3 separate regions of the Homo sapiens genome follow, and all the other regions are linked to region 1. Evidence: fine-mapped expression QTL. A gene starts in region 1. Each other region holds a variant in brackets. All regions are shown on one strand. Distances are from middle to middle.

Region 1 (2,761 bases):
ATCGAGACCATCCTGGCTAACAGGGAGAAACACCGTCTCTACTAAAAAAGAAAAATTACAAAAAATTAGCCGGGCGTGGTGGCGGGCGCCTGTAGTCCCAGCTACTCGGGAGGCTGAGGCAGGAGAAAGGCGTGAACCCGGAAGGCGGAGAGTGCCGTGGGCCTAGATCGTACCACTGCACTCCAGCCTGGTGGACAGAGCGAGACTCCGTCTCACAAAAAAAAAAAAAAAAAAAAAAAAAAAAAAAGACTGAGGGAACCTTCCCAGGAAACCCCTAGCAGCCTTATTTCTCCTTGGCCAGAATATCCTTGCCTAATTCACACAGCAAGAAGCTTGAGTCCATTCTGATTAGCTTAGAATCCATCAAGATCCTCCCTTAGGGAGTTAGATTCTAGATTTCCCGGAAGAATCTAAAAATTGCAGGGTCGTGCTAGCCAGGTATGAAAATAAGCAAGTAAAAAGATGATGACTGTTGGGTAAAGCTATCGACAAGGTCAGCTACAAAACAGTCAAGCCAAGGAAGGCTAGTCACAGATGCACCCCAGACACAAAAGCACAGTCCAGGAGCTGAGGGTGCCTGAGCCACAGTGGTTCCCGCCTACCTGGCCTTCGTAGGAAAGTTTCCTGTGGTCTCCCTCATTGAAGAGCCAGGACGGGTCAGGCGGTGGTGGGTCTCAGACATTGAGCCCCACAACGCACTGAGACTGAACATCAGACCATTTATAATAACAGAACTCTGTCCCACAACTTCTGCAGCAATAGGTACAAAACAGAACTTGGTCACTGCCAGCCTCCCTATTTTTTTCCCTGTCCCACTTAGGAGCTACCACAGAAAGCCAAATAGGCTCGACTGAGCGATCACCTAGGACGAATCGCCTCCAGTTAGCGTGCTTCCACCTTCCACTCGGAATGCTCCAAGCAGGGCACTCCCGGGGCTTTGTTTCTATCACTAGGACGCGTCCCCACGCCCAGGCTGTCCCTGAGTCCCTGCCACAGGCGCAGATGTTGGCGGGCGCCCTTGCCCCTGAGCTCCCGGTTAACGGCCTTGGACTGTTCTCATGGCTCAGTCTTGGTCTCTCTCCCCAGCAGGGCAAGGCGCCGGGAAGGCACCCGAGATGACAGCGCCGAGCCCCATAGGCGCTAGTCCCGCCCTGGACGCCGACCGCCGCCTCCACAGTCTCGGCTTCGGTTGCTGGATGAGAACCAGCGTGGCCCGTTTAAGGGGGAGGGGACAGGCGCTGCAAGGAGCAGAGCCGCGGGAAGCAACTCCCTAAGCCACAATGCTAGTCGCGAACACAGGAAAAAGCTCATCCCGCCGCCGCGGGGCCCCATGCTCCCGCCGGCAATGACTATGCCTGTGGGAGCAACGGCTACCGGCGCGCGGCCTTCTGGGAGTTGTTTGTTGCGCGGAGCGCGGGCACGTCCGCCGGCCACCGGAAGCACCGCCATTGGCCGGTGCGTGCAGGTGAGTCTGGCGGCCTCAAGGTTGGCTCGGAGGTTTCACTGTTAGCCGGGTGCGGCCGGAGCGCAGGACCAGGCCAGAGCCGCCCCAAGTGATCTGGGCGTGCCGGAGAAACGAGCAGGGCCTGCGGGGGTCCCTCATGCGGCGAGGCCGAGCAAGGGCAGGGGCCTGATGGGATCGGGATCTCTCCGGCCTCAGGGACGGGGAAGGCCGGTCCAGTCAGGTTTCCCCTGCAGGAGCGCCCGGCTGGGTCTGAGCTTGTCGGGAGGCTCTCCTGCTGCAGAGCTGGGAGGGAACTTATAGTACCTCGCAGGTACGGGCAGGGGTGGAACTGGGTGGGACTGGGTGGGACTGGGTGGGACTGGGTGGGACTGGGTGGGCCCTCCCGACAGAGGGTGCCTGGGTCGAGGGCTGCAGGGGCGGGGGATTCAGGCTGGCGTCTGGAGCTCTGGGGCTGCCGACCCAGCGGGCCTCTCCCGGCTCCTTTTTCCTCCCTCAACTCATCTTCTGCGGCTTATCCACAGGTGGCAGCCAAGAGCCTCCTGGCACAGCGGCACCAGGCAGGTGACGCCTATTGGACCCCAGAGGTCATCCCAGCTCCAGACGTGGACACATTTTCTTCCAATGGTACGTGAAGCTTGAACCTTGCAGAGAACATGTGTATTTTCCAAGTGAACAGAAGATTAAGGCCAGTCCACGCAGGGCAGGGGTAACTGGGGTGTTGGGGGCCTGCACTGGTTAAGCGATGCTGGTGCACCCCATAGAGAGACTACAGAGGTGAACAGGATGGGATGTGTATGTAACGCCTGTAAGTTAGGGATCGGGGTTCCATTTGTGTTGGGTGATATTTGATGGGGACCGTACAAGGCAGTGCTAATGAGGAAGGCATGGGGTTGGATTTCAAGAGTCTAAGGGAGTAGGGAAACATCTGATTGTGGAAATGACTCCGTGTAAGGAGGGATGCCAAAAGACAGGAAGGAGTGGAGGAAGACTGTGTTTCTGTTTCCAGCGTGGAGCCAGGGTAGAAGTCACAGTGCAAGGAAGATGTGGTATGCCTGGTCAGTCTCTGCATGGGAGTTGAGGAGCATGTGGGTGACATGGCTGAATGTGGAGGAGGGAATGGCAGTGGCAGGAAGCCCAGGAGGTTTGGGCTGGACACGTAACCTGGAGCAGATTGGAAACGTCACCCCACAAGCAGGGAAGGAGAAAACTGGAAAAGGAAAGAGAAAGCAACTCCCTCCCCAGCCCTGCAGCCAGAGGGACTTCTGCCAGATCAGCCACCATACAGGTCCAGTATGA
Region 2 (2,761 bases), 22 kb before region 1:
TAGCATTTTGAAGGGGAGTTTTAGAGAGCTTTCTTGTTTCCTCTTGTTTTGTGCTGCCTCCTCAGCATTTCAGGACAGTCCTGGAGTTCAGTTTAGCAATGTGCTCTTGTGGACTCTGTGCCAGGACCCAGAGCCCCTGCCTTTCCCATATATCCTCGTTCTTGTCCCCAGTGGAGGTTGGAGAAGGTTCTTTTTCCTGTGACCATGCATACATGTACAGTGTCACAGATCCCTTCTCAACCCTCATTGCCTTTTGTTCTTTCCCTATAACAGCTCTATGGAGATATAATTCACACATTGTAAAGTTCACTCTTGTAAAGTGTACAGTTCAGTGTTTTTAAATATATTCACAGGGTTGTACAGCTGTCACTACTGTCTAATTCCAGAACATTTTCTTCACCCAAGAAAGAAACCGCATACCCATTAGCAGTCTCCCACCAATCCTCTCAATTTCTCCATTTCCTAACAATTACTAATCTACTTGTCTGTCTGTGGATTTTTATATTCTGGACATTTCATATAATATGTGGCCTTTTGTGTCTGGCTTCTTTTACTTAGCATGATGTTTTCAAGTTTCACCTGTGTTGTAGCATATATTAGTAGTACTTCATTCCTTTTTATTGCCAATATTTCATTATATGACTAGATCACAATTTGCTTATACATCCCTCAGTTGATAGACAATGGGTTATTTGTACTTGTTGGCTATTATGGATAACACTTTGGTGAACATTCTTATAGAAGTTTTTGGGGACATATGCTTTCAATTTTCTTAGCTATATATACTTGGGGGGAATGTCTGGGTCATGGATAACTATGTGTTTAACTTCTGAGGATTTACCAACCTGTTTTGCAGAGTGGTACAGCATTTTATGTTCCCACCAACAGTGTGTGAGCATTCTAGTTTTTCCACATCCTCTCCTGTTATCATCTGTCTTTGGTAACAGCCATGCTAGTGGGTTTGAAGCATATTCCACTGTGGTTTTGACTTGCATTTCCCTAGTGAATAATGGCGTTGAGCATCTTTTCATGTGCTTGTTCTCATTTGTCTTGCTCTGCTTTTGACTTACAGAGTATCCTGAGCTCCAGCTGGACCCTAAATTGGATCCTCTTCCTGCTGAGAGTCCCCTAATGAACATTGAGGTTGTTGAGGTCCTCACACTGAACCAGGAGGTGGCTGGTCCCCGGAATGCCCAGATCCAGGCCCTATATGCTGAAGATGGAAGCCTGAG[T/C]GCAGATGCCCCCAGTGAGCAGGTCCAACAGCAGGGCAAGCATCCAGGTGACCCTGAGGCCGCGCGCCAGAGGTTCCGGCAGTTCCGTTATAAGGACATGACAGGTCCCCGGGAGGCCCTGGACCAGCTCCGAGAGCTGTGTCACCAGTGGCTACAGCCTAAGGCACGCTCCAAGGAGCAGATCCTGGAGCTGCTGGTGCTGGAGCAGTTCCTAGGTGCACTGCCTGTGAAGCTCCGGACATGGGTGGAATCGCAGCACCCAGAGAACTGCCAAGAGGTGGTGGCCCTGGTAGAGGGTGTGACCTGGATGTCTGAGGAGGAAGGTAAGTAGAAGGGTGGGTAGAGGGACAGCTTAATGAGGGTGTCTTGGAGTACCCTGTGGGGGAGATAAGAACTCCAGGCTTCCTAGGAAGGTCATGGGAAGGATTGTGTCCGCTCCATACAGACCAAGGACATCCATGTTGCCCACGTGTTCCTGAGTCAGAGCCACTGAAACCCTTGCATTCTTTAGCCCTTCGTGGGCTTCTGATGGAAGCACACAGATGAAGTGCTTCATTTTTATCCCTCTGGCATCCCTGCTGCACCATAAGCCCTGTAGCACTTGATAAGATAGATGGGAATACTGAGCTCAGAGAGCCCGCAGTAGCAGGAGAGACAGGGATTTGACAAATGAGAATGCATAGAAAAATGCTGGGACTATGAGGAGCTCGAGGTGATGGTGAGGCTTATGAAGGTCTGCAGCTGACACCTGGTGTGGAGTGGAACTTGGCCAGGGTAAAGAAAGGGGGCAGGAAAGATGTGCCATGCAGAGGGGAGCACTGCCTGTAAGGGCCAAGATGGAAGGGATCACAGTAAATGCAAAACTCAGAAAAATCGGTTATGTTTGTGATGGAAGGGAGCAGAGGTTGGAGCTGGCACTGCCAGTGGGGACTTTAGTCCTAAAGCAAAGCAAAATGTTCTTCTAAAACAGTAGGGCTCGATCCCTGAGTTCCAGAAACTGGTGGCACCACTGGATTTGACCTTTAGAGATTTACCAGGCTGCATGTGTGGTGGATGGTGGACAGAGGATGGGGGCGAGGCTGGACACAGGCTACCCGCAGCTATTGCCATGCCCTCTGATGGGGTGGTGTCTTGGATAGGAGTGATGGTGATGTCTGACTGGGGAGAGACTACACGTGTGGAGTGTGTATTTGGGAATAAGACTGCAAGACTTGGTTTCTTCATCAGGCTGAGTTTCACAGAGCGTGCATGCTTCTGCATTGCTCACCTCCATTTTCCACATTTCACGGGTGCCCAGAAGATGTTTCTGATGTGAACGAATGATTGACTGGTTGATGTTTGTGATTGCAGGAAAGGGGAAGGTATCCTGCAGGGGGATGGTGGGATTCTAAGAGGCCAGGGCATCCTGGAGATCGGGTATCCGAGGCAGCAGGGCAGGCACTTGCATGAGTTGTGTCAGATGCACCAAGTCTGGGGTGCTGTACTTGGCAGAATAATTGCCCCAAAGGTGTCCATGTCCTGACTCCTGG
Region 3 (2,761 bases), 57 kb after region 1:
ATAATTTTTCACATAAAAATCTGACCTAATTTTCAGCTTCTCTTCAGAGATGAGCAGTTCTGACAAAGGGACCTGTATTTTCCCGTAATCAGTGAGTTCTGAGTCCCTGCTGCTCCTTCAGACAGGGTCCATGCTCCCCATCACCTCCAGTCCCACCACTCATAGGTAAGTGTCCTTGTGGGCTCTTAAACTGGCCCACTTCTGTCATGTGAGCCTGCCTTGCCCTGAAAGCAGGCGAATTTCTGACCCCAGCCCTGTGTGCTTCTCTTTTCAGGAAGGATGGTGAACCTGTTTTTTTGTTTTTTTTTTTTGAGATGGAGTCTCACTCTGTCGCCTCAGCTGGAGTGCAGTGGTGTCTTGGCTCACTGCAACCTCCACCTCCTGGGCTCAAGCGATTCTGCTGCCTCAGCTTCCCAAGTAGCTGGGATTACAGGCATGTGGCCCAGCCAATTTCACTTTGTATCTAAGTATTAGTGAGTGTATTAGTTAGCTGCTGTGTAACACTGTCCTAAAACAGTATCTGTTTTACTTAAAACAGTAACTGTTTCTTTAGCTCACAAACCTGCAAATAAGTGGTTTAGGCCAGTCTCTGCTGGTACCCTCGTCTGTCTTGTTAGATGTAGGTCAGCTCTGCCTGGCGTTGTTGATCTTGGTGAGTCCTCTCACATGTCCTCACTGTACAACCCACACCTATGTGTAGTGGCCTAATAGGTGCCCAGTGAGACCTGACTCCCATCATTCATAACGTGCAGTCTCTCGTGACACAGGCCTGCCTGTTTTCTCCTTTTCCATTCTTCCTCTGCCAGAAAGCACTGATGGAGATAGTCCAGCTGATTGAGAATGTGTGTGATGTTTCAGGAACCAGTGACCTTCCGGGATGTGGCTGTGGACTTTACCCAGGAGGAATGGGGGCAGCTGGACCCTACCCAGAGGATCCTCTACCGTGACGTGATGCTGGAGACCTTTGGTCACCTGCTCTCCATAGGTAAGCCCTGCTTCGCAAGGTGTGATAGCTGATTCTCTCTGGGTTATAAGTCATGGGGCCTCTGGTGTGAGGACCTGACCTTGGGTCCTCACTCCCTATGGGGAGTGCATGAAGAGGGAGGTCTGCCCTTTTCC[A/C]TCACCATGCAGAGCTTCACCATGTTGTGAGGTGCCCACGTGTCCTCACAGTCGGGAGTCTGGTCTGGAGCCTGGGCTTGTTGTTTCTCTCCTGAGCAGCCCCTCACCTCCTGTGTTTTTCCCCATTTCCAGGTCCTGAGCTTCCGAAGCCTGAAGTCATCTCCCAGCTGGAGCAAGGGACCGAGCTATGGGTGGCTGAGAGAGGAACCACCCAGGGCTGCCATCCAGGTGAGAACCCACTATGTGGGAGCAGCTAATGGGAGCAGCCTAGCAGGTCACTGGAGATGCACTTCATGGAAAGGGTGGTGGTTGGTGGTCCTGAAGACCACCCCATTCACTAGGAGTATACAGGACTCAGCATAGAGTCATGCTGACAGCTCTCAGTATAATGAGACCAACAAAGGGGAAAGGCGCGTGGGGATAAGTTCAGAGGAAGCCAGGCATGAGCCTCCAGAGTCCCCTCACTGTGGAGTCATTCAGGATGTGCCAGGCTCCCCCAGCACTCAGGTGTGACACCTCATGAGACATGAGCTCTACCAGGGAATCTTGTTAAGAGACTCAGTGCTAGGAGTTTTGACTGAGGCTGCCACATAGACACTCTCTGCCTAGCACAGACCAAGGTTCCAGACTACCAGGAGAAAGCCAGTGTTTGGAATAAACCACATAGTGTGTGCAGTGTGGGTGTAGTAAACCACTCTCATCAGTTAGGGTTGTGGGAACCATCCCCAAATCCAAATTCTCAGTTGCAGCCAAAGGCTAACCTTGTGAATAGGCTTCTCCTAAGAATGCTGGTTTCAGGCCTGCCCTGTTAAATCTTTTCTGCACAGTGCTCCATAGCCTTCTCACCTGTGCTCCCCATCTTCTAAGCTCAGAGGTCATCACCTGTGCTCCAGTGCTGAGAATCCCACCCCTTCCTCCCTCTCTGCTTCATCTTCCCTTATAGGTTCCAGGTCATTCCCTCTCTCACCATCCTTCTCAGCATGTCCTTTCTGTGGCATCATTTCTAATATGTGAACCTGCCCTTCATCTTCTCCATTTCATTCTTGCATGTCCAGATTCTTTGTGTTTTGTTTTGTTTTTAAGACAGGGTCTCACTCTATCGCCTAGGCTGGAGTGCAGTGGCGTAATCACGGTTCACTGCAGCCTTGACCTCCCTAGTTCAAATGATCCTCCCACCTCACCCTCCCGAGTAGCTGGGATTACAGACATGCACCACCACGCCCTGGTAATTTTTGTATTTTTAGTAGAGATGGGATTTTGCCATCTTGCCAGGCTGGGCTCGAACTCCTGGGCTCAAGCAATCCACCTACTTTGGCCTCCCAAAGTGCTGGGACTACAGGCGTGAGCCACCATGCCCAGCTTTTTTTTTTTTTTTTTTGAGACCGTCTCTGTTGCATAAGCTGGAGTGGCAGCAGTGTGATCATGGCTCAGTGCAGCCTCAGCCTTCCTGTCACAAATGATCCTCCTGCTTCAGCCTCTTGAGTAGCTGGGACTACAGGTGTGTACCCCCACACCTGGCTAATTTTCTTTTTAAATTTTTTTGTAGAGACACAGTTGCACTGTGTTGCCCAGGCTGGTCTCAAACTCCTGGGCTCAAGCAATCCTCCTGTCTTGGCCTCTCAAAGTGCTGGGATTACAGGTA

What was found.
Region 2: its variant is fine-mapped to the expression of ZNF544 in whole blood (INTERVAL, PIP 0.98).
Region 3: its variant is fine-mapped to the expression of ZNF544 in whole blood (INTERVAL, PIP 0.94).

The regions. Positions count from the first base shown.
Region 1 is chr19:58,227,482-58,230,242 of GRCh38, forward strand. ZNF544 (zinc finger protein 544) reads left to right here and starts at 1,433. Exons shown (of 7, transcript NM_014480.4): 1 at 1,433-1,465; 2 at 1,987-2,089. RefSeq lists an enhancer at 1,309-2,135.
Region 2 is chr19:58,205,648-58,208,408 of GRCh38, forward strand. ZNF274 (zinc finger protein 274) reads left to right here. Exons shown (of 8, transcript NM_133502.3): 5 at 1,073-1,555. Among named protein-coding and RNA genes, the nearest start is that of ZNF544, 22 kb to the right of the region's middle. The variant T/C (reference allele first, on the strand shown) is at 1,233.
Region 3 is chr19:58,284,859-58,287,619 of GRCh38, forward strand. It overlaps ZNF8 (zinc finger protein 8), which reads left to right. Exons shown (of 4, transcript NM_021089.3): 2 at 859-985; 3 at 1,252-1,347. It overlaps ZNF8-ERVK3-1 (ZNF8-ERVK3-1 readthrough (NMD candidate)), which reads left to right. Exons shown (of 7, transcript NR_144447.1): 2 at 859-985; 3 at 1,252-1,347. Among named protein-coding and RNA genes, the nearest start is that of ZNF8-ERVK3-1, 7.3 kb to the left of the region's middle. The variant A/C (reference allele first, on the strand shown) is at 1,120.